Homo sapiens: one gene and its partners. The protein of the gene in region 7 purifies or fractionates together with the protein of the main gene of each other region. This does not show direct contact. Each region holds a gene or a part of one and is shown on either strand. Other genes may lie near its edges. The genes, in order: ESYT1, PRPSAP1, TOR1AIP2, CS, FLOT1, TSC22D3 and SYNJ2BP.

Evidence for each region.
Region 1: the proteins of SYNJ2BP (region 7) and ESYT1 purify together in Homo sapiens (affinity purification with mass spectrometry; 4 studies listed by BioGRID and IntAct, with this or other methods). This does not show direct contact.
Region 2: the proteins of SYNJ2BP (region 7) and PRPSAP1 purify together in Homo sapiens (co-immunoprecipitation; 2 studies listed by BioGRID and IntAct, with this or other methods). This does not show direct contact.
Region 3: the proteins of SYNJ2BP (region 7) and TOR1AIP2 fractionate together in Homo sapiens (co-fractionation; one large-scale study listed by BioGRID). This does not show direct contact.
Region 4: the proteins of SYNJ2BP (region 7) and CS purify together in Homo sapiens (co-purification; one study listed by BioGRID). This does not show direct contact.
Region 5: the proteins of SYNJ2BP (region 7) and FLOT1 purify together in Homo sapiens (co-immunoprecipitation; 2 studies listed by BioGRID and IntAct, with this or other methods). This does not show direct contact.
Region 6: the proteins of SYNJ2BP (region 7) and TSC22D3 purify together in Homo sapiens (affinity purification with mass spectrometry; one large-scale study listed by BioGRID and IntAct). This does not show direct contact.

The regions. Positions count from the first base shown.
Region 1 is NC_000012.12:56,141,721-56,145,174, reverse strand, and holds the end of ESYT1 (extended synaptotagmin-1), read right to left. Parts: intron 2,891-3,454; coding exon 2,750-2,890; intron 2,598-2,749; coding exon 2,443-2,597; intron 2,341-2,442; coding exon 2,242-2,340; intron 2,159-2,241; coding exon 2,027-2,158; exon of another isoform or gene 1,948-2,026; coding exon 1,842-1,947; exon of another isoform or gene 1,650-1,841; intron 1,596-1,649; coding exon 1,546-1,595; intron 1,353-1,545; coding exon 1,313-1,352; 3' UTR 501-1,312; downstream 1-500. UniProt on the Homo sapiens protein: Binds calcium (via the C2 domains) and translocates to sites of contact between the endoplasmic reticulum and the cell membrane in response to increased cytosolic calcium levels.
Region 2 is NC_000017.11:76,312,448-76,315,916, reverse strand, and holds part of PRPSAP1 (phosphoribosyl pyrophosphate synthase-associated protein 1), read left to right. Parts: intron 1-2,025; coding exon 2,026-2,096; intron 2,097-2,900; coding exon 2,901-3,047; intron 3,048-3,469. UniProt on the Homo sapiens protein: Seems to play a negative regulatory role in 5-phosphoribose 1-diphosphate synthesis.
Region 3 is NC_000001.11:179,850,304-179,853,803, forward strand, and holds part of TOR1AIP2 (torsin-1A-interacting protein 2), read right to left. Parts: intron 2,509-3,500; 5' UTR 2,363-2,508; coding exon 2,329-2,362; intron 1,061-2,328; coding exon 542-1,060; intron 1-541. UniProt on the Homo sapiens protein: Required for endoplasmic reticulum integrity. Regulates the distribution of TOR1A between the endoplasmic reticulum and the nuclear envelope as well as induces TOR1A, TOR1B and TOR3A ATPase activity.
Region 4 is NC_000012.12:56,279,831-56,283,330, forward strand, and holds part of CS (citrate synthase, mitochondrial precursor), read right to left. Parts: intron 3,162-3,500; coding exon 3,030-3,161; intron 2,779-3,029; coding exon 2,590-2,778; intron 1-2,589. UniProt on the Homo sapiens protein: Key enzyme of the Krebs tricarboxylic acid cycle which catalyzes the synthesis of citrate from acetyl coenzyme A and oxaloacetate.
Region 5 is NC_000006.12:30,729,949-30,732,687, forward strand, and holds part of FLOT1 (flotillin-1), read right to left. Parts: intron 1,153-2,739; coding exon 971-1,152; intron 780-970; coding exon 734-779; intron 618-733; coding exon 480-617; intron 239-479; coding exon 74-238; intron 1-73. UniProt on the Homo sapiens protein: May act as a scaffolding protein within caveolar membranes, functionally participating in formation of caveolae or caveolae-like vesicles.
Region 6 is NC_000023.11:107,765,788-107,769,287, reverse strand, and holds part of TSC22D3 (TSC22 domain family protein 3), read left to right. Parts: intron 1-3,500. UniProt on the Homo sapiens protein: Protects T-cells from IL2 deprivation-induced apoptosis through the inhibition of FOXO3A transcriptional activity that leads to the down-regulation of the pro-apoptotic factor BCL2L11.
Region 7 is NC_000014.9:70,372,091-70,375,590, reverse strand, and holds part of SYNJ2BP (synaptojanin-2-binding protein), read left to right. Parts: intron 1-2,459; coding exon 2,460-2,600; 3' UTR 2,601-3,500. Other genes in the region: SYNJ2BP-COX16 protein, read left to right, coding at 2,460-2,558. UniProt on the Homo sapiens protein: Regulates endocytosis of activin type 2 receptor kinases through the Ral/RALBP1-dependent pathway and may be involved in suppression of activin-induced signal transduction.

The DNA of each region.
Region 1 (3,454 bases), on a different chromosome or scaffold from region 7:
TAGCTTGCATTCCAGGAAAGTTCTTGCAAGGAGCAGAGTTCAAGGTGTACAGATGATCGAAATGGGTGTATTTCTCAGCTCCTGCTAGATGGGCCTGAAGCCCTTTTGAATGTAGCTGAGCATGCCCTGACAGCACAGAGACACCAGGAGCCTGTGCAGTGGCACAGAGACACCAGGAGCCTGTGCAGTGGCACAGAGCTCCCAGGTTTACCAGGTTTAGGAATCCCTTCCCTGGAAAGCCTATAGTGGTCAGCAGACAAGTTGGATGGGTAACAGAGTTCATCACTGTGACTGGAAATGAGTCTCACCTGAAATGCAACAGCAGCTACTTTACACAGGTCTCTTGACCATCCTCAACATTCTTGGTGGCTGCAACCTTAGTAGGCTTTGACCATTAATTAAACTGACATGATTCACGAATTGGATAAAGGCTTTTGACAGTAGGAATAAACATCAGATGGGTAGATTGATTCCCTATCCTTAAGGAAAAGAACCACAGCTGGTTTGAGTATGATGTTTAATGTAAGATCCAGTGGCTTGGCAGAGTTGGTGCAAAACTGTAAAGTACCAGATTAAGTTCTAGTCAGTGAGTTAGCAGCCTAGGCACTTGGGCAAAAAAATTGGCCCTGCTGTCCCAAGTCCTCCAAAGCCCTCTCCGTATCACCAGCTAGGAGCTCCAAGACTGATATGCCACTACTTGGAGGCTTGAGTAGAATCCACGCGTCCTCAGTTTCCAAAGTGACAAGAGACTGGCCCCAGCCATCAAAGCAGTAGAATTTTCAGGACAGGGTTGAGGACAGTGGGGACAGAACTGGACATGGGGGCCTGAGCTGCTGAACATTTGCTACATGCAGTAGTCTAAGAGGCTCACAGCTGGAGAGGTTAGCCTGTCCACCTTCCCACCCATGTGTGGTAGGGAAGAAGGTGACCATCTAGTTAAAGAAAAAAAGATCCTTCCAAAGCTGTATTTGGCATAAGCTAATACCACTGCTAGTGCTGCCACTGGCCAGGCACAGATACAGAAGGCCCTGAGGAGTTGGGAGGAAGGGAGAACAATGTGCAGGCAAAGCAGGAAACAGCCAGCTCAGGTCCCCGCCCCAGGGGCCCAGAAGGATAAAGGCCGTGCAGTAAAGGGAACATACGGTTCTTCTCTTTGGTCAGGCAAAGGCCCGAATATGGGCCTGTTAGGTGAAAGGGCTGAAGGGCACAGGCTCTGCCCTTGGACCCTAGCTTTAGGCTCATCACATTGAGGCGGTGATGGAGCGAGACGAAGGCAGGAAGACAGAGCAGTCAGGCTGGGACTCGCCAGCTCCTAGGAGCTGCCCTTGTCCTTGTTGTCCATCAGGTCATACCTGTGAAAAGAGGGCTCATGTAGAAAGATGACTCTTGTGTCATCATATTTATAAATGAGACACGATCCAAGGGCTTCTCTACTTGATAGAATCAATGGTTCTCTGCTCAGATTGTATCTTTTTTTCCTTTCCTGTGATTGGAATTTCTCCCACTGAAATATCCAGACCATCCCCCACCCACGCAGACACTCACCACCGGGCTACACCCTGGGAAAGGTCTGTCTCAGCTAGGTCCAGCTGCACCTGTGTTGGAAGATGATAGGGGAAAGATGTTATTTCTTTTATTTTTTGAGACAGGATCTCATTCTGATGATGCTGTTTTGAAATCTCCAAAGACCATGTTCCTTCATCACATACTCGTCCCAAACCATTGCAGAGGTGAGTCACCTCTAAAGGATCACGTGGGGTACTTCCTTCCTCACAGGGACTATAACCTTGGTGCCAGCAGCTTCCAGCCCTCACCTCTGCCCTGCCATCCTGCCCTCTTACCTTCCCCAGCAGCTCACGCTCTCTTGACATGAAGGAGGAATTAGACTTGACAGAGACATCCAGCTTTCGTCTCTGGGCCTCATCCAGGGGGAGTTCCCACTCAAACCTGGGGTAGGACTGGATGTTAGGGGCCAGGAGTCCTTTCCAAGCCTGCCATCTCTCCACCTGAATGCCCACTGACTGACCGTTCATTAAATTCAGGACTCAGGGTCCTCTTCTTCTGTGAGGTCCTCCTCTTGGTGCCTCGGTTCTTGTCTGGCAGTAGCAACAGTGACACATAGGGATCAGGAGGATCACGTCCATTCTGTCGAAGGGACCTACAACAGGAGGATGTAGGTGATATGGTAACCTGAGGGAAGGGATGGAGGCGATCTGGAGGACAGGAGGGATGGGGTCTCACCGGCAACCATGAACAATGCTGACCAGCTTTCGTTCTTCACTGTAGTACCACAGAGTCAGTTTCACCTGGCCCAGAGGCCCGGCTGGAGCCTCAAGGGGACTGTGGAGAAATATCAGTAGGTCTGGGGAAAGCTAGAGCCTAGTGAACCTGTAATACTTTTTATTTCTGACTGCGTCCCACCTTCCTGTCCCAGCCCTTTACCTGTCAACATGTGTTAGGCGCTGCCGGAGCTCTGGGGCTGAGGAGGTGATGTGAGGGGGTCCCCCCGAGAGCTCTGGTTCTTCACTCAGCGATGAGGAGCTGTGGCTGTAGCTGTGGCTATGAGCTTCCACTCCCGAGTGCTGGGACACCAGGATCTAGGGGCAAGAAAGCTGTGAGCTGGGCAGAGTTCTCTCAGTTCCCTCACTCTAAGGACACGGCCCTCTGTTCCCACCCTCCTGGGTGTCCCTCACCTGTGAAGGCCCTCCCCTCCTCCCTCTCATCCTGCCCACCATCTCCTGTCACTCACCCCTAGCTGTGCTCTCAGTAGCACCTGCCCCTGACCACTGCTGAGTGTAAACCAGCGGTCCAAGCAGAGCTGGTCAGCCACGAGGAGCTCTGAGAGGGGCAGGGATAATGAGCCCAGCACGCCAGTGCCCTCACCCCGAACCTGTGGGGCAACAGGACCATGATCAAGAGGCGAATGCATCAACAAATGAGTTAATCCTGGTGTTTTAAAGGTCCAAACGCTTGGACTCATAGGTGGTTTGGTGAGATTTCCCTTTGAGAAAGGCAGGGAAGCCATGGTAACAGTTGCTAGTCCCTCCCTCTGTCCTTCCTTCCTTTTTTTTTTTTTTGAGACAGAGTTTCGCTCTTGTTGCCCAGGCTGGAGTGCATGGCGTGATCTGGTCTCACCGCAACCTCCGCCTCCCAGGTTCAAGCGATTCTCCTGCCTCAACCTCCTGAGTAGCTGGGATTACAGGCACCTGCCACCACGCCCAGCCAATTTTGTATTTTTAGTAGAGCTGGGGTTTCTCCATGTTGGTCAGGCTGGTCTCAAACTCCCAACCTCAGGTGATCCACCCACCTCAGCCTCCCAAATTGCTAGGATTACAGGTGTGAGCCACTGTGTCTGGCCTGTCCTTCCTTTCTTAACCAGAGTAGAGTGGACCATCTTTACCTCATAAACTTTCAGAAATTATTATTATTATTTTTGAGACGGAGTCTCGCTCTG
Region 2 (3,469 bases), on a different chromosome or scaffold from region 7:
TGGTGAAACCCCACCTCTGCTAAAAATACAAAAAATTAGCCAGATGTGGTGGCACGTGCCTGTAATCCCAGCTACTTAGGAGGCTGAAGCAGGAGAATCGCTTGAGCCCAGGAGGCAGAGGTTGCAGTGAGCCGAGATCGTGCCACTGCACTCCAGCCTGGGAGACAGAGTGAGACTCTGTCTCAAGAAAAAAAAAAAAAAAAAAAAAAAAAAAAAGCGGATAGGTCAACATAACTGCGTGTTTACATGGTTTAATTTAAAAACAGAATCTCAGGAAGCTGCTCCTAATGTTGGTGGTTTGAAACCCCCCTCCCCCCATTTTAAGTGATTTTATATGCAAAGCCTTCTTGTCTTGCCCAAATTCAAGAAGTTGTCTTTGTTTCTAGGATGTGAAATCAGGAAATATATGTTTGTTGAAATGTATAAAGTAGTGGTGAATTTCAGCTCAACTGATTTGCCAGTATACAGAGAAAAACACCTGTTCTTTGAGATACACAGTGCCTGTTGGGAATCTGCAAAAATTGTTTGTTGGTAGTCACTAAACTCTTGTTACCCTGAATTTTATTCTCTTTCGCTTCCCCCACTACTAGCCTAATAAATATTTCAGAATAATAACAAAGTTTAAAGAAAGAATACTTAGCCTGTTCTTCTGAAGTAGTCTTTGTTTTTCTTCTCTGTTTACTAACCTCCTTTTGAGGATAAAATCTTATTTCCTTTCTTTATCCTGTAGTTTCCTTTGTACACTCATAGCCTTTCTTCAGATGCAGATTTTGCAGTCAGATAAAAGTCTCTACTTTAAGCACCAATTAAATCAGGAAAAGATGATGGGCCTGGAGTTATTGTCTTCAAGTTCCTGATTTTGAGGAAACTCTGATTATGTCAGTAGTGCAGTTATCTGATAGTAAGGTTACACTGTCCAAATAAGGTGACTTTGGAAGAAAATAACATAAAGCCATCTCATGATCTGGCAGCCTTTCGCTGTTTCGCTTTCTGCAGAGCGGCATTCCTTCTGCATGTCTCTGTCAGTCTCTGTGAGAGTGGGGTTTCTATCCACACAGCACTGCGGTGCAGCTTCTCCGTGTTGGCAGAATCTTCCATGCTCTGCTGGTTCGTTGTCTTTCCAGCTGTGCTGTGCAGTGCAATGTGCTGGCTGCTGAGCTCATGAGACACGGCCCGTCTCAACTGAGAAGTGCTGTGCGTATAAAACACACACCAAGTAGAGAAGACTTGATAGGAAAAAAGTGTAAGGCTGGGTGCGGTGGCTCATGCCTATAATCCTAGCACTTTGGGAGGCTGAGGTAGGAGGATTGTTTGCTTCCAGTTTGAAATGAGCCGGGGCAACATAGCAAGATCCCCTCTGAGAAAAAAAAGTGTAAAACATCTCATTAATTTTTATATCAGGTTGGGCGTGGTGGCTCAAGCTTGTAATCCCAGCACTTTGGGAGGCTGAGGCGGGTGGATCACCTGAGGTCAGGAGTTCGAGACCAGCCTGACCAACGTGGAGAAACCCCATCTCTACTAAAAATACAAAACTCAGCTGGGTGTGGTGGCGCATGCCTATAATCCCAGCTACTCGGGAGGCTGAGGCAGAATTGCTTGAACCTGGGAGGCGGAGGTTGCAGTGAGCCAAGATCGCGTCATTGCACTCCAGCCTGGGCAACAAGAGCAAAACTCCGTCTCAAAAAATACATACATACATACATACATACATACATTTTTATATCAGTTACATGTTGAAATTATAATATTTTGGGAATTGCATAAAATAAAATGTATTAATTTCATCTGTTTTTAATGTGGCTACTAGAAAATTCAAAGTAACATGTATGGCATGCCTTCTATTTCTTTTGGCCAATGCTGCTGTTTCTGAGAGATTGCAGGTTCATTGAGGGGGAATTTGCATGGTTTGTTTGTTTTTTGTCTGTATAGTGGTTTTGCCACCATTTCCAGGGAATTAGGTTGTGATTACATTTCTCTAGTGATACATGAATGACTGAGATCTTGTAATTTGTTTTGTTTTGCTAGTGATGATGGCCAAAGAGAAGCCACCGATAACTGTAGTTGGAGATGTTGGAGGCCGCATCGCAATCATCGTGGTATGGTTATATGTCATCCATGTGCAGAGGTGGCACTCCTGGCTCTTGGTCAGTAGGTTGTCCACTCTGGGACTGTATTTCTAGGAACGATGATCCGAATGGATCCATGTATCCTTTCTCACCCAAACTCCCTTGTGCCAAGTGGCAGAAACCTGTATCCAGGTGAACATACATTAAAGTATAACCTACAGATAGGAAATGAGCACAGTACTCCCGTGAGAAAATTCAGCACCTTCACCTTCATCATGTGGATTCTAGGTTCTTTAAACCAGCTCACCTAATCATGCTTGAGCGTTAGGGCCGAAAGATGAACTGAAGATGAGCTGTTCCGTTTTCACAAGTAAGAATGGGTGTCCCCGTGCAGACTCGTTCTGCATGTTGACATACTTTTTTTCCCAGCTCTAAATATCTGCTGGCTAGTGGGTCATGAGTCCTTTGCAGTAGCACACTTTATTTCAGTTTTCTTCTCATGTCACAGTCTATTTGAAAAAAAAATAAATGGAACGCTGGCTATGTGGGATTCACCAGAAACGTGAGACAGGAAAATGAGTGTTGGCAATCCTCAGCTCCAGCCGTAATGTCACAGGTGCTTGACTGCGCCCGCCTCTGACAGACACACAAGGTACTGTCAGGTGCTTCTGTTGCCATTTCTGGATGCTCGTTCTTTGACCCAGGCACACAGCTCTGATTTTCCATCAGAAATCCTCTGAAACTGAGTGCAGAAGAGAGTAGAGTGGTGTGTGCATTGACAGTATGGGCTAGAGGGTGTTTCTTTCCTACCAACTCACTCTGTTCTCCTCCCAGGATGACATTATTGACGATGTGGAGAGTTTTGTTGCTGCCGCGGAGATCCTGAAAGAGAGAGGCGCCTATAAGATCTATGTTATGGCCACCCACGGCATCCTGTCTGCAGAGGCCCCTCGCCTGATTGAGGAGTCCTCCGTAGACGAGGTCAGGCTGCTTCTAAATCTTGAGCCAAGATTTACTGCTGTGTTTTCTGGGAATAATAAAATGATTCAGTCAATACTAAATTGCTTAATCTGTCTATAGCTTTTCTAGCTTTTGCTGGCTAGCAGTTCGTTGGGACAGATACATGTTTAGGAATACAGATAGTCCACGACTTACCATGGTTCAACTTAGAAGTTTTTGACTTTATGATGATGCAAAACCATTGCAATTACGATGTAATGTATAGTATTCGATAAATTACTTGAGACACTTTATTTTAAAATAATCGCTTTTATTATAAAATGAAAGCCTTTGCCCTAGATGATTTTGCCACCTGCAGTCTAATGTAACTGTTCTGGGCATGTTTAAGGTAGGGCTAGGCCAAGTTAATGATGTTTAGTAGGTTAGGCGTATTAAATGCTTTT
Region 3 (3,500 bases), on a different chromosome or scaffold from region 7:
ACATGCTTGTTCCTCTTAACATATAGGCAGAAAAAACCACGTATAGAGAAACTAACTGTCTTACTCAAAGTCCTATAAAACTGAAACATGACTGAGTTAAGGATACTGTCCCATTAATGCTCATTTTTAAATATACCCATCTCTTGATTTATGTAACATTTAGTTTCCCAAAAAGTAAAAGATTTTAAAAATTGTAAGTCGAAATATTCTCATAAGAAATAAAAAACCAGAAGCGAATTTTTTAAAAGTCATGCCCCTTTTTGTCATATCACATTAATATAAACAGTTAATAAAAACATGCTTAGAAATGCAGTTTATGTGTAGGAAGCAACTTAATATAGTGGAATGAGCTAGCCTAGATGAGAAACCTCATTCTAAAATCAACTCAGTCATGGCTTGGTGTGAGCTTGGGCAAGGCCCAAAGGCCTTACTCCTATGAAAGATGACAAAAGTTCTCTGGAAAGAAGGCCTCTGACTTCTGCTGTGTTCTCAGTTAACAGAGCAGTACAAAACAGGAGAGTAGTTCAGGGGGTTCTCTTACCTGGGGCCAGCAGTCGCCTCCTCAGTGTATCCTCACCCTCTTGCCCTGCACTGGAATGACCAGGACTCTGGGCCTCCTGGGAGTCTGTAGTAGGTGGTTCCTGAGATGCTCCAGTTCCGTCACTCGCTTCCTTAGGGAGGGCCACAGAGCTGCTCCCTAAGTGTGCATCTGCTCTTCCTACCTTGTCACTTGGAGAATGGCTGGGATCTGGATCCAAGGGTTCTTTACCCAGATTTTCTGAAGGGAGGTGATGCCCTTTTCCGCCATCCAGAAAACTCTGCTTGTTCTCATCTTCTGTTTTATCCTTTGGATGTTTCCCCACATTTGCTTCATCTGGACTTTCTGATTTATCACCTGTATCTGCACTTTCTGGACCTTCTGTCTCTACCTCTTGGTGGTCTTTGCTAAGACCACAGGCAGAGTGTAGGATCTCAGCTTCTTCAGCATTACTTGCTATGATTGTGGTCTCCTGCGCCTGAGAATTTACTGATGGATCATTTTCCAAATCCTTTTGAGAGTCTATTGAGATAAAAGTTTATAATTTTTATTGGAAAAAATTCCCCATAAATTTATATTTTAACAAGGTCCCTGTTTAATAATAATATTTACATAGATTTTCATGGTTTACAAGACACTTCCTAAACATTATTTCTCTTGGCTCCCACTAAAGGCAATTAAAACAACAACAAAAAAAATCTTATCATGTTAATAAATATAAAATGACACTAATATAAAACAAATTATATGACAGAACAAACTTTTGGCTATATTAAATATATCCTCTTCCCTAATGAAAGGCAATGCTCATCAATGGTAGCAAAACCTTATGCAAAAGGCTGATAGGGACTTTTATAGTGGATGAGCCAGACTGACAACTGCTGAACCCAGCGACCAATCTTCACATCATGAAAACAGGGAAACCCAAACAGATATCATTTACTTTCTAATACAATGCAGTAAGAAGTACTCTAGACCACTTGGGAAGTATTTTTGCCAAACAACTAAACTTAAATCTGGTAAGTTTCTAGAGCAACCAGTTTCCAAGAAATATAGGGATACAGGAATACATTAAATTATGCCTCAAGAATATAATCAGCAAAACCCAGCACGTGGGAAATTCCAAAAGACTTTGTTTCTTTAATAAAAGTAAGAATGGCCAGATGTGGTGGCTCATGCATGTAATCCCAGCACTTTGGGAGGCCAAGGCAGGTGAATCACCTGAGGTCAGGAGTTCAAGACCAGCCTGGCAACATGGTGAAACCCCGTCTCTACTAAAAATACAAAAATTCACTGGGTGTGGTGGCAGGCGCCTGTAATCTCAGCTATTCTGGAGGCTGAAGCATGAGAATCACTCGAGCCCGGGAGGCGGAGGTTGCAGTGAGCTGAGATCACGCCACTGCACTCCAGCCTGGGTAACATAAAAAAAAAAAAAAGGAGAAGAAGAGGAAGAAGAAAGATACCTTCTAAATATAGCACATCACAGGATATATATAACTCTAAAGATTTGTCTACCATCATTTTTTAAAGAAGCATTGTATTTTTCCATTACTATAAGTCCTTACTATTGGAGTCTCTAAAACATTTATCTTCCTTATATTATAATTAGGGTCTCGCATTATAGTAAAATTCAGTAAATTTGAAAGAATAAGTATAATCAAAACAAATGAACCCACTGAATTAGCTTTTTTACTTCAAAACCTCAGATTTTAGTCATCAGAGATTTTCTCTCTCTGCACACCCCTGGTTTCCTACAGCAGCAACCTCAGTGCCAGACAAATCAGTCTTACCCTCTTGAGGTTCCCTAAGTCCACTGTCGGCCATGTTTGTGTTCTATCTCTTCAGAGTTGGGAGGATACTTTTTTTAGTACTTGGTTTTCCTTGTGAAGATGTCTTGTTTTCTTCTTGTCCCAAGTCCCAACAGACTCATGCTTCCCATGGACCCAGGAAATAAGGCATATATACAGTGACTAAAACAAAATGAAAAAAAATTAAATGACTTTTTATCCATACAAGGGAGAAATGCAAGTATCAGCTTTATTTATTAAATATGTGTAGCTTGAGTACTATTTCCTCTGTGAAACTTTTTTCGTGAAGAAAATTTCCTTTCATGAGAATCATATTCCAAATCCTAGACTACTGAAAAAAGCTCCAGATTATTAATCTTTCATGAATTTCATAATCTAATATATTCCAGCATAGTTGAAAGAGTATAAAAAGTAAGATCAAGTGACCAGAATCTTCAACAGACTAGCTTGAATTAAAATAAAAAATAAATCTAAGAGTAGAAATTTAAGTCATTGCTGAAACAATCACTGCAGATTTCCTGGATGTCTTCAATTTCTGTCCCAGATAATTTTCTCATAGTCTGCCTATCAGGAGCTTTCACTTATATTAAAAAGTAACAATGCACAGGAGGTTCCCACAAACTGAGATGGCTGCTTTGAGGTGTACCACTACACATTTGGACTGACTTTGAAGTGGTTTTCTCGAAGTATTCTTTTGTAAAATATGGAGACAGATATTCCTTTATACAATGCCTTTTTATGCAATGCTCAAAGACAGACAAAGAAAATTATTAAGGTTTACACAAAAGGAATCAAAATCAAAGGCACTTTATAAGCAATAAAAACAGTCATATTTTATAGTTCTTTTTTTTGTCAAAAACAAATTGATCAATAAAGTTACTTAATATTTATTCCCTATGAAAATGAGAATAATGATATCTATGAGGCTTAAATACAAAAATATATAAGAAAAACCTGTGTGAAGTGTTATAGTTTTTTGACAGCCTAGCTGGAAGGCTAGCCAACTGGCCGTCTTTATGTTTTTCTCAGTACTCTTTTGTAAAATTTAAATTTACACATTAAAAACTTTGATCCCCAATGCCTACACGGTGCCTAGTGTATAGTAAGAACTCCATATTTTAACTTAAAAGCTTATGAAAAAATAAATGAATGTA
Region 4 (3,500 bases), on a different chromosome or scaffold from region 7:
GGTGGTGCGCACCTGTAGTCCCAGCTACCGGGGAGGCTGAGGCAGGAGAATCGCTTGAACCCAGGAGGCAGAGGTTGTGGTGAGCTGAGATTGTGTCACTGCACTCCAGCCTGGGCAACAGAGCGAGACTCCATCTCAAAAAACAAAACAAAACAAACAAACAAAAAGGCCCAGGGTGGTGGCTCACGCCTATAATCCCAGCACTTTGGGGAAGAGGTGGGCGAATCACCTGAGGTCAGGAGTTCTGGACCAGCCGTTCTAGACCAGCCTAGCCAACATGGTGAAACTCTATTAAAAAGACAAGGCCAGGCGTGGTGGCTTAAGCCTGTAATCCCAGCACTTTGGGAGGCCGAGGTGGGCAGATCACGAGGTCAGAGGTTCGAGACCAGCCTGGCCAACATAGTGAAACCCTGTCTCTACTAAAAATACAAAAAGTTAGCTGGGTGTGGTGGTGTGCGCCTGTAATCCTAACTACTCGGGAGGCTGAGGCAGGAGAATTGTGTGAACCCAGGAGGTGGAGGTTGCAGTGAGCTGAGATCGTGCCATTGCACTCCAACCTGGGTGACAGTGCAAGACACCGTCTCCCAAAAAAAACAAAAAAAAAAAACAAAAAAATTAGCCAGGAGTGGTGGTGTGCGCCTGTAATGCCAGCTAGACATGGTGGCATGTGCCTGTAGTCCTTGTTACTTGGGAGGCTGAGGCAGGAGGATCACTTGAGTCCAGGAGTTCAAGGTTACAGTGAGCTATGATCATGCCACTGCATCCTGGCCTGGGTGATTAGAGAGAGACCTATTTCTAAAAAAATAAAAATAAAAATGGCTGGGCACGGTGGTTCACATGCCATTTCACTCCAGCCTGGGTGACACAGCGAGACTCCATCTCAAAAAAATAAATAAATAAATAAAATGAAAAACAAAATATTAAGATTATATGACCTTTTGTACCTGCTAATGTGTGCAGGTACAAATATACACATTCATACCACCTAAAGTGTTTATAAATAAGCCTTTATAAATAAATGCTTTATGTGGTGTGAATGTGTATATTTTGCATCATTCTGATACCAACTCCCCAATGCCAACCAAGTTAATATCAATTTTAAATGCTCTCTGTCTTCCTCAACTGCAAACACAATTCTCTACACACAGTTGGTGCCAAATTAATATTGACCAACTAAATCAATCTAGATTTGCCAAGGACCCAAGGTGGTTGCATCAGAGCAGTGGGTCATGCTCTTCTGTGTCTTGCACCACAGTGAACTCTTTAGGGCCTTCCTGGTGGCTGGCACCTCCTGGCCAAAAATCATTTAATGTACCTGCTTTGTAAAAAGAAAATTTTCTGTTCCTATACTACCTATCTCCAAATAAGGAACAAAAGAAAATGGTACATTCTCCTGTAAACCTAGCCAGATCATTTGTACTTTTACCCAGTGTTTCTGAGTTTGTGGGGTACTAGAAGAGGATGGAAGGAATTATGTACTATGCATTGGGATAAGAAACAATCTTTCCATACCCCAACCAGCGTTGTAAACTATTAAGGACACTTTTCATTTTCAGAGAATAAAGCTCATTTGTTTCTGGATCTGGAGCCTACTCCAAGGATACTAACCACTCTCCCACTCCTGATGGGTATCTTAGGTTGGCTAGCCGAGAACATGACTGACTGGCATTAGTCCTCCTAGACTCCAGAGTTGCAATTGCTGTTCTCCCAACTTGTAAGATTTCTCAAAGTTTTCTGTATTTGAAGAAGATAGTGAGGGAAAGTGACCCTCTGGTGCTAGCATGAGACTGCTCTGTGAAACCTTCCTCAGGGACCCTGCAGTTAAGTCACATCCTTTTCTTTTCTTGTTTTCTCCTTTTTTATGTACAGATAGGATCTCACTATGTTGCCCAGGCTGATCTCAAACTCCTGGCCTTAAGCAATCCTCCCACCTCAGCATCATGACTCACTGGGATTATAGGTGTGAGCCACCTACCTAGGTCTCTTTTCCGTTTCAACAGCCATGTGTACATACCTCTGTTACAGCAAGACTATGGAATTTTTTTTTAGATGGAGTCTCACTCTGTTGCCCAGGCTGGAGTGCAGTGGTGCGATCTCGGCTCACTGAAACCTCCACCTCCCAGGTTCAAGTGATTCTTCTGCCTCAGCCTCCTGAGTAGGTGGGATTACAGGCGCCCGGCATCACGCCTGGCTAATTTTTGTATTTTTAGTAGAGATGGGGTTTCACCATATTGGCCAGACTAGTCTTGAACTCCTGACCTCGTGATCTGCCCGCCTTGGCCTCCCCAAGTGCTGGGATTATAGGCATGAGCCACTGTGCCCGGCCGACTATGGAATTTTAATAATTTCTTTTTTCTGCACGTGTGTCAGCCTAACCAAACAAACAGTCCTGGTGATAGAAACCATGCTCTACTTAGCTTTGTAATTCCAACAACTGACAAAAAACAAGCCTCCAATGAAAATCTGTTAAGTTAGTTTCTGATTAACTCAGAGGTAATTTTTCTAAAGATTCTGTATTTTTTCCCTCCCTTCACACTCAAGTCCTTTGAATCCCCATCACACACCGATCACCCCACCCAAATTTCCTACCTCCCAGTACTTGGTTCGGCTGATACCCTGTGCATATGCTCGGGCAAAGTTACTTTCACTGTTGAGGGCTGTAACAGCTGCACTGAGCTGAGACATGGGGTGTAGATTGGTGGGAAAGTTGTCCAGCATGGTGACCACATGGGAAGGCAGAGCTGCCCTCTTTGCCCACTCTTTTGAGAGCCAAGATACCTGTGGAAAAAGAGACAGTGCTCAGAACACCAGCAAGGACAAGGAAGGAGAAAAATAAAAAAGGACAGCAACATCTGAGTAAAGAAAACCCAAGAGAGGTCAACCCAATCCATTTATACAGCAGAACTCTGCTGATTCCTTCCCTTCACTACGCATCTCTATAAATGCCGGATCAGCATTAAGTGTCTGAGATTAGAGAAAGGCAATGAAGAAGGGGAATGAGAAGAGCTAATAATATCCTTCTGCTTTACCTGTTCCTCTGTTGGGATATGTCCAGTTACCAGCAGCCAAAATAAGCCCTCAGGCAGGGGTTCTTCCCCACCCTTAGCCTTGGGTAGCAGTTTCTGGCATTCAGGGATACTAAAGCCTCGGAAACGGATGCCCTTGAGAGAGGAGAGAGAGAATTACAACTCAAGTTTATAGCCTAGAAGTCACACGACTGGTCTTACTCATCAGACCTTACAACAAGTTAGAGTAGAACTTTTTATGTTAATTATTATTTCTGTAGAGGTGGGGTCTTGCTATGTTGCTCAGACTGGTCCCGATCTTCTGGCCTCACGCAATGCTCCACCTTGGCCTCCAAAAGTGCTAGGATTACAGGGGCAAGCCATCATGCCTAGCCCAGAATACAATTTTTAATTTTCTTTTTTTTTGAGACGGAGTCTCACACTGTCGCCCAGGCTGGAGTGCAGTGGTGCGATCTCGGCTCACTGCAAACTCCG
Region 5 (2,739 bases), on a different chromosome or scaffold from region 7:
TAAATGCTAGGCATACTGTGTCACACAACACAGGAACCTAGCAATTCTCCTCAGCTCCAACCTGAGACCTCACCTGGGAGATGCTCACGCCTGTGAGTCTTTCCACACTCTCTGGCAGGCGAGTTAGAATGTCCAGTACTTCCCCAGTCACTTTGGCTGCCCCCATGGTCCCACTGCCGCTGGACACCAGTGTGATCTTATTGGCTGAAGTCAAGGGACCACTGATCTCCTCTGCCACCTGGCAGGAGAGAGACACCCACTCAGTGCCCATGATCTGACCACATTCCTCATAAAACAACTTACTCTGGGTTTTAAGGTCCTCGTTCCACTGATCATCCTTCCTCACTTTGGTCACTAATAATTCCCACCCCTAATTTAGAGTCCCCCTAGGCTGTTTCTCCCTAAGCCCCTCACTACACCCCACCCCTTAGTCCCTGGTTCTATTTCCTCCTTTCTTGGTGCCCACATGACCTCCAGACCTGGGGCAGCTTCTCTAGCAGCATGTCCAGCTGAGCAGCCTCTTGGTACAGCTGGAAGGCTTCTGCCTTCTTGGCCATCTGCTCAGCCTCGGCTCGGGCTCGGGCCCCTATGGCAAAGGCCTCAGCTTCCCCACGCATCTGAGGGTTAAGGATGCTTGTGAGATTGACGGAAATCATTAAGAACAAGAAATCCCCGATCAAGCAGCAACCCCCACCCTCTCCACAAGCCAGCATGGAACTGCCTCTTAACTCACCCGCACAGACGCGGCTTCTGCCTCCGCCTGCATAATTAGTTGGGACCTGTGGACAGAAGGGAAGTGGAGGGTGGAGCCCAGCAGCCCTTACTCCCAGGAGAAAGGCCCAGTGCTGCAGAGGCAGACGCTCCTGAAACCTGAAATCCATAGGAGTCCAGGTGGTGAAGGCTTCAGCACTCCATCTTGGGGTGCCTAGGTGGCAAGTGAGCTAGGCAGGGTCAGGGAGGGGACATTTACTTCTCTGCCTCGGCTAGGCGCTCCAGCTTGTAGCGCTCCGCTTCCGCTGGCTTCCGCACCCGGGCCTCCAGCTCCTTCTCCCGCCGGGCGATCTCCTGCTCCTGCACTGCCACCTGCTGGGCCCGCTCCACCACCTGCACCTGCACCCGCTGCTCCTCAATCTGCTGCTTAGTCTTGGCCACCTGGGTAGGAGGGTGAAGTCAGGTTCACGCTCTGAGTCAGAGGTGAAGAGCAAGTGCCCGGGAACCAGAGCTCCAGAGTGGGATATAAAAATAGGAGCCGGTGGCCGGGCGCGGTGGCTCACGCCTGTAATCCTAGCGCTTTGGGAGGCCAAGGAGGGTGGATTGCCTGAGTTCAGGAGCTCGAGACCAGCCTGGCCAACATGGTGAAACCCTGTCTCTACTAAAATACAAAAAATTAGCCAGGTGTGGTGGCGAATGCCTGTAGTCCCAGCCACCCGGGAGGCTGAGGCAGGAGAATTGCTTGAACCTGGGAGGCGAAGGTTGCAGTGAGCTGGGATCACGCCACTGCACTCCACCCTGGGCAACAGAGTAAGACTCCATCTCCAAAAAAAAAAAAAAAAAAAAAGGAGCAGGTGCATGAAGGTGGGTTCCCTCCTGTCTGCTTGGCCAGTCCAGTGGAGTCCAGTGTTTCTCTGATGAGCCCCCGTTTAATCTATTTTTCCCACGTGTGCCCCCTTCTAGAGTATAAATACCTTGAGGGCACTGAGCACATGTTGGCTTTCTGCTATCTCCAGTCTTGCTCAAATCCCCCCACTGTTGCTGCGATAACCTTAGTGCTAGCCTAGGCTACTGCAATAGCTGACTTATTTTTTGTGGGGGTGGGGACAGGTGATCTTTTTTGTCTTTTGCACATGGTGCAGATTTAACAGAAAAAAAAGTGAACCACGAGGCTTCTTCCTCATTCTCCAAACCACCTGGGTCCCTTTCCCAGAGAAACCACCAAGACCAGCTTCTTGTGTATCCTTCCAGGGATACTCTGAACATCTACAAGAATGTGTGTATTCATAGAATTCCTCTTATTTAGGCAGATTTCTTTCTTTTTTTTTGAGGCAGTTTCGCTCTATTGCCCAGGCTGGAGTGCAGTGGCACGATCAGCTCAGTGCAACCTTCACCTCCCAGGTTCAAGCTAATCTCTTGCCTCAGCCTCTCAAGTAGCTGGGACTACAGGCATGTGCTACCATGTCTGGCTAATTTTTGTATTTTTTTTAGTAGAGACGGGGTTTCACCATGTTGGCCAGGCTGGTCTCAAACTCCTGATCTCAAGTGATCCATCCGCCTCAGTTTCCCAAAGTGCTGGGATTACAGGCATGAGCCATCGCACCCAGCCTAGATTTCATCTTCTTATTCCTTGCAGTGTGAGGGAATCAGAAGGCTCTTATCAAGATGCTAGTGAGGAGAGGTGCCAGGCAAGGAACACATTTTTTTTTTCTTTTTGAGACATCATCTTACTCTGTCACCCAGGTTCAATGGCGTAATCATGGCTCACTGCAGCCTTGACCTGCCTGGGCTCAGATGATCCTCCCGCCTCCCCCTCTAGAGTAGCTGGGACTACAGGTGTGAACCAGCACACCCGGCTATTTTTTGTACTTTTTGTAGAGACAGGGTTTTCTATGTTGCCCAGGCTGATCTCAAACTCCTGGGCTCACGTGATCCACCTGCCTCGGCTTCCCAAAGTGTTGGGGTTACAGGCATGTGCCATCACACCCAGCCAGAACACATGCCTTCGTTGTCCCATTGCTCAGGCTC
Region 6 (3,500 bases), on a different chromosome or scaffold from region 7:
GATATACCTCTTTTGCTTATCCATTCATCTGTCAGTGGACACTTAGGTTGTTGCCCTCTTTTGGCTATTATGAAGAATGCTGCTATGAACACTGGTGTACAAGTATCTGTTCAAGTCCCTGCTTTTAATTCTTTGGGGTATATACCTAGGAGTGGCATTGCCCAGCACCTACTTTTCAACACAATTTTGTGGTCTACTGCTCGTAGTCAACACATACGTAGGAACCTGTCATAAAATGAGCAAATGTCTCAGGGCATTCCTTGAGGAGAATGCTCCCTCTCTAAGCCAGCTGCTGGTGCTAGTGATTACAACGAAGAGAAAGCTACAAAGTTTGGCAAAGTGATGGTGCTGCCTGGGAATGGACTTTTTATGGGGGAAATGACATGCTTTGGAGATTGCATCCATGAGTTGGAGACTGGCAAAAGTTTTAGTGTGTATCTCTCATGAATGGCCAAGGTCTAGCATACCTTTTTAAAGAGTAACATGTGACACCATTACTTGCCATTAACTACTTTGTATGGATTTGTTTATCAGACCTCTGGTCATGGTGACAGCCCACTGGGAATAGGGTCCTATGGGACTGGAATGTGGCAAAGCCAACTTTGGAGGAGAGAGGTAGAGAGATGGGGCTGGAGTCCATGGAAGGCCTAGCTTGGGCTGTTACAGCACGGGGCCTGGACAGCATGAGAGTTCAAAAGATCTGTTTGGAAAGTTCATGCTCTTAAAGAAAGGTGGGAAGCACAGAGCTTGAATTTCATCTACTCCTCAGTTTTTGCCAGGAGTGGACTATTATTTACTGAGTCCACACCTCAGCAAATAATGCTTTCCAGGGTGACCTTAGTTTTCTTCCCTGCCTGAAGAGAAGGTTAACACTCCTGCTTATATTTGCACTTGCAGATAATCCAACAAGCTCTCCATTCCAGGTAGAGGGTTGGCTCCTTTCCAGATCAGGTACTGAAGGCCAGGGAGTCTGGGTAAAATGGAGATGGATGTATCTGGCCAAGACTGCCAAGACCTCTAGGCATCCCGGGTGATGGAACCCTGCAGAGTTCTTGCCCCCACCTGGTGGGTGGGTTGGTTGGGAGGAATGAGTTTGGCCATGTCTGCACCTGGTGGTGGCTGTTGCGCTGTTTGCTCATCGTGATTCTGCTCCTACCTGAACTTTCTCTTCTTCTTATGTAAGCCATCCCTAGAGATAACTGTAAAGCCATAATCTGCCATGGCTGGCTGGGCTTATATAACAAATTGGTTGGTATCGTGCAATAGCCTCTTGAACCCTGGAGAAACCAATGTGCTAAGTTGAGACTAAAACATGGGTTCATTTGATGGGGTATTTTGTGTGCTCAGTGAACTCAGGGGAGAGGAGTCCATGACCACAGGGGTCAGAAAGATGAAATTTCCTTTTAAATAAAGAGAACAATAATGGCCCAGAACATACTGTGCTGTCCCAAAGTCTGCAATAATGGGACAAGGGTTAGGGCATTGCTGTAGCACCACAGCTTTGGCAGAAAAGGCCCTCCACAGAACCCCATGGGCTAGGAGGAGCCCCATGAAGGCCAGAAGGCTAGATCCCAGTTTCAGGGCAACCTAGGTTTGATGAAGAGTCAGGTCAGGGAAAATGTCTTTTGGAGGCCACTGTCTACCATGCTGAAATCCAGCTTAACTAGAGTTGGAGTGGGGCTAAGATGCGATCTGTGAGAGCAGAAAGCAAGCTTTTCTCGATTCTATTCCAGGCAGGAGGGAATTTCATCAGTAGGCAAGGCAAGTTCACTTGTACCTTCTAGCTGAAAATTCCTGCCCCAAAGTAGCTGTGGCCCTTCTGGAAACTGTATAAGAGGCATTAAGATCCCAGCCAGCACAGAAGACTGAATGGGAAGCTTCCCATTGTGCAGACACTAGCCCGAGGGAAAACAAGAGCTGGAAGCAGGCTGGATCACTGATGATCCAGGCTCACCATTGGCCTTCCTCTCCTGGGAGCCACTTTCCTCAAATAGGTCCAGCCAGAAATCGGGCCCCTGCCTATGGACAGAGCACACAGGGACCTTCCCCATCCTTCCTCGAAGGAAGACTTTACTCACAGAATAGGCTTGAGTATTCAACCCACTTCTTCTAATCTTCTCTTCAGGGGAGATGGAGAGCAGCTGTTCACAGCTTAGGGGTCTGGCCAGGATTCCCGCTCCGTGCTATCTAGGCTGGTGATTGGCTAGAGCTATCCCTAAGGAAGAAGGGGGTGAGAAGTGAGAGGAAAGGAAGCGACTCCAGCAGCTCCTTCCTGGCTTACCCCACTCCCAAGACACCCCTCCTTCAGCGCTGCCGTTTAGCCTCACTCCCAGACTAGGCTGGGCCTAGGCCAGCCTGAGGGCCCTGACTCATAACTAGCACATCTTATGTAACAGCCAGGTTACTGAGGCATCACACTTCTGCTTGCTCAGTGGTAGGCTTCCCTGGGGACAGGCATTTGGAAGCCTGCTGGGGGTCCAAGTCAAGCTCATCATACTTCCCAAGGAAAAGCCTACTCTCCCCAGTGTCAGGCAAGCAGTCTGCTCAGAGGCAAATGCCAGGCAGCAAAGCCTGACCCGGTCCCACACTCAGCCTCCACACTCAGCAGTAAATGTAAGCAGACAGGCAAGCTGGAGTGGACTTAATTTGGCTTGAGGCATTTTGGAGGTGGCAGGGAGGAACCTACTATCACCTGATAATGCACTGCTAAAGAAACTGCGTGGTGCATGGAGAGGCCCCAGAACAGGTCGCAGAAGTCCCTCTTCCTTTTGTATCTGCTTGTTGGTTCAGAAACTACTGGGTGGGTTGGGGTGGGGGGAGTTGTTGGGGGGGGGGCGGAAACTCCAGGCTGACTGACACCAGGTGAAAGGGTTTACCGGAAGGTGGAGGAGCTGTTTAAAGGAAGGCCTTTCAAGAGCCAATTCCCAGTCCACGCTCCATGAAGTCTCAAAGTCCCCAGGTTGACCTGAATTCACAGTGATTCTTAGCTCTCTGCCTGGCCTATTCAGAAAATTACATTACCGGCTTAGTGGAACTGAGCCCCCAGTGAAGTCAGTATTGCCAGATTCTATGACAGATTTCTCTAATAACAAATGTGACTATCTACAGCACAGAATACCCCCATCAATCTAATATTCCACTAGCTCAAGGTTTGTAACTAAACCAATAGCTCCTCTTCTTCTCTTCCTTTGTCTTTTCCCCAGCCTGTCTCACGTGTGTTGCCATCAAGTAAATGGCTCACAGGCTGTGAGTAGGTGGGGACACTGCTCTCCACTCCAAGAAATAGAGGAGAAACAGGGAAACAAAGTCAAAAAGGTGGTGTGGGAATTACCAGCAGGCATGATTTGTATCCAAAGCTGACTCATAAGTTCTTGGACAAGCTCAAGACTACCATCTCAGGGCTCAGAAGAGCTTGGCACCCTTAGTCCCCCAGATCACAGAATCCAGTGAAAATTAGGGGACCTGAGATGGAGATGCAGAATTTTCCTTTGTGGGACTCC
Region 7 (3,500 bases):
TGCTTTTTGTTTTACCCTCACTCCCCTGAAGAGTTTCTCAGGCAAAGGGAGGGGTCCATTGGTACTTCTGCTTATCATTGAAGGACATTCAGGCCAGGCACGGTGGCTCACACCTGTAATCCCAACACTTTGGGAGGCCAAGGTGGGCGGATCACTTCAGGCCAGGAGTTCGAGACCAGCCTGGCCAACATAGCAAAACCTCATCTCTACTAAAAATACAAAAAATTCAGGCACGGTGGTGCACACCTGTAGTCTCAGCTACTTGGGATGCTAAGGTGGGAGGATTGCTTGAGCCCAGGAGGTAGAGGTTGCAGTGAGCCAAGATCATACCACTATACTCCAGCCTGGGCAAGAGAGTGAGACCCTGTCTCAAAAAAAAAAAAAAGAAAAAAAGAGAAAAAAAAGAGAAATTCACAACAGTATGGCTTATAACCAAGGTCCTTGCTTCAAGATAATATGCCTTAAAGATAAAGCTTGACAACCAAATTAAAACAGATGATTAAAGAAAAGCCAGGTGTGGTGACTCACATCTGTACTCTTAGCACTTTGGGAGGCCAAGGTGGTATGATTGCTTGAGCCCGGGAGTTCAAGACCAGCCTGGGCAACATAGAGAGACCTCATCTCTTAAAAAAATAATAATAAAAATAAATAAAAAATTTTAAGAGTGACATGGACCAATGGAAAATAAATAAATTAATTAATTAAAAAGATGGTAAAAAAACGTAGCCAATTTTACTTTTTGGTAGGGAAGGAACCATATGTCTACCGCTGAAAACTTATTTATAAAACCATTGGATAAAACACTACAAAGATGGTGGGTTTTCTGGTACCCACTATATGCTTTTCCCTGTCACTGCCATGAACCCTTCATTTATCAACTTGGTGACCCTCTTAACCAAATCTTTAGTGTTCATAGGAGAACTCCAGGAAAAAGGAAATGGAATTCAGAATTCAGTCAAGGCAGCACCTATCCCTGCATCTGTTTCTTATTTCCAAGTGTTTTATAATTTGGATGATGATGTAAAGGGAAGCCTGGGTAGATATAATTCCTCCTATAGCATTGAGAATTTCTGAGCATATTCACAAAACAGGTTCCATGTGCCTTTAAATTAAATCAATTTGCTACTTCTTAAATAGGTGCACTCTTCCTCACTCAGTGGCTAAGGATTTAGAAGCTTAAGAACATTTAGAGGAGTTCCTAAAAAAGTAGAGAAGGCAGAACGTGAAAGATACCTGAGAAAACAACCAGTTGCAAGCAGAATCTGGGTGTAATGGATTAGAAAACAGGTTAATAAGAGATAATATTGGTCATCAGTTGCTTCTGCCTTGGCTCTTCTCTTTCTAAAGCATGGGAGCATTTGTGCAGTAGATAAAAACAAGTAAATATAGGGACACACTTCAATATGATTACAATTCTTTTGGAAGGTATGTGAGAAGTTATTTCCAGTGTTCACTTTTAAGGAAACATCCATAAATAATTCCTAATAAAAAAGACCCTTATGTTCAGGCAATTGGCCTAGCCCTAAAAACCATGCCTTCTTATTGAGCATGTCCTTTCAGGACAGCTCATCAGCAAATGAATGAAAAACATAGAGGTGGAATAGAGGGTATAATGGTATTTCATGCAGTCTTGCCTTTCAGATTGAAGTGTCAGTTTTATGAGTTGTAATGAGGCAGTTTAACTGAAATACGATGATGCCATAATTATTGCAAGTTAGCCACTAAAAGTTGATATTAAGAAGAGCTACCCTGAAAACCATCACTAAAATGAAGACCATCCAGCCTCAAAAGGAAACACTTAGCCAATAGAAAATTATAAGCACTAGGATATAATTTCTTTTTGCTTTTTTACATCTGTTCCATATAGATTCACCTTCATCTCTCTCTAGTATTAGAAATGAGCAGATGAAGGGCAAAACCCCATCTTTGGAGGGAGTTGGGTGCCTTCTGGGATCTGGAAAGCATTTTTCAAGTAATGGCATTGGACGTATGTTGGTATTGCACCTATGTTGACATTGCCCACATCTGCTCTTACTACATTTTGATGACTGATTATCTAAGTAAACATTTCCAGAAAGATCCCCCTTCTTCCTCACCAAGTAATATCCAAGTTCCCTATAAGATCATAGGTTTTATCTCATGTCTTCATTTTCCTGATACGATACACAAATAGCAAGGTAGAGGCAGTACAGAAACAGAAATTACCTGACTTGCCCTCACGGGTCCCTTTAGGTCAGCAAGGTTAAATGCCTCCCCATTAGACCTATTTTCTTTCCAAAGATCCTGTGACACTGATGCATCAGCTCAGGACAAAGAGAGGACTCCTTCTGCTAGGTATTGCTGGGGGTTACAGTTTTGGGTGGTCTAGAGTCTACAAACCCAGGTGATGTATCAACCTGGGCGTTTCAGTTGCAAACACACATTAGTCACTAGAGTTAACATTTTTCTTTCCCTTCCAGTTACAGGTGCAGAATGGACCTATAGGACATCGAGGTGAAGGGGACCCAAGTGGTATTCCCATATTTATGGTGCTGGTGCCAGTGTTTGCCCTCACCATGGTAGCAGCCTGGGCTTTCATGAGATACCGGCAACAACTTTGAAAAACTTGCTCTCTTTCAATACTCCCAATGAAGATACATTTCACTCACCCTCCACCCCTGCTATTCTGCCATGTCTTTCCCTCTCTCTGCATAGCCAGATTTGAAGTGACTGATACCCACCCCAAACCTTGCTGTTCACAGTCTCCAATTCTTCATATTCTAATGGGAAAGTAAAGGTATTGTTTGAAGGAAAACTGAAGAAAAGACTTGGCTTAGAACAAATGAGGAGTTATATATTTTACTAGGACTTTTGATAGAAATTCAGCTACAACCCAAAGAGAGAAAGATTGAGTCTTCCTGTCACCATAGGCAATACCTTTTTTCTTAGCTGGCATGCCATAAAGGCCAGCTATGTGATATTAGAGGAAGAAAGGATTTTTCTTTTTAATGATCTTCCTTGGGAAATTATTGTGGCCTTTATTTAATTTCTAACTACGTACCTGGGTGCCTATATCGACAAAGAGTGAGAAGAGCATTTTTACTTTTTTAAAAAAGCAAATACATATATACACATACGTATGCAAATATTATAGTATAATAGTGATCCCTATGGAGAATTAAAGGTGAGAAAGCTACTTTGTGGTGTCTAGGTTTCTGATAAAAGGGATGATCTTAACTGAAGAATTTAAAGAGATACTTAAACAGAGCAAATGTAGTAGGAACAAGGGAGTGAGCCTTATAAGAGGACGTTCAGTCTCATTTATTAAAATAATAACTGAGACTGGGAGAGGTGGCTCATGCCTGTAAATCCCAGCACTTTGGTAGCCTGAAGTGGGAGATTGCTTGAGTCCAGGAGACCAGCCTGGGCAACATAGCAAAACCTCATCTCTATTTAAAAAAAAAATAGAAAAAAATGTAATAACTGAAGCAACTAATTAAAAATCTTAGAAGAACAATATT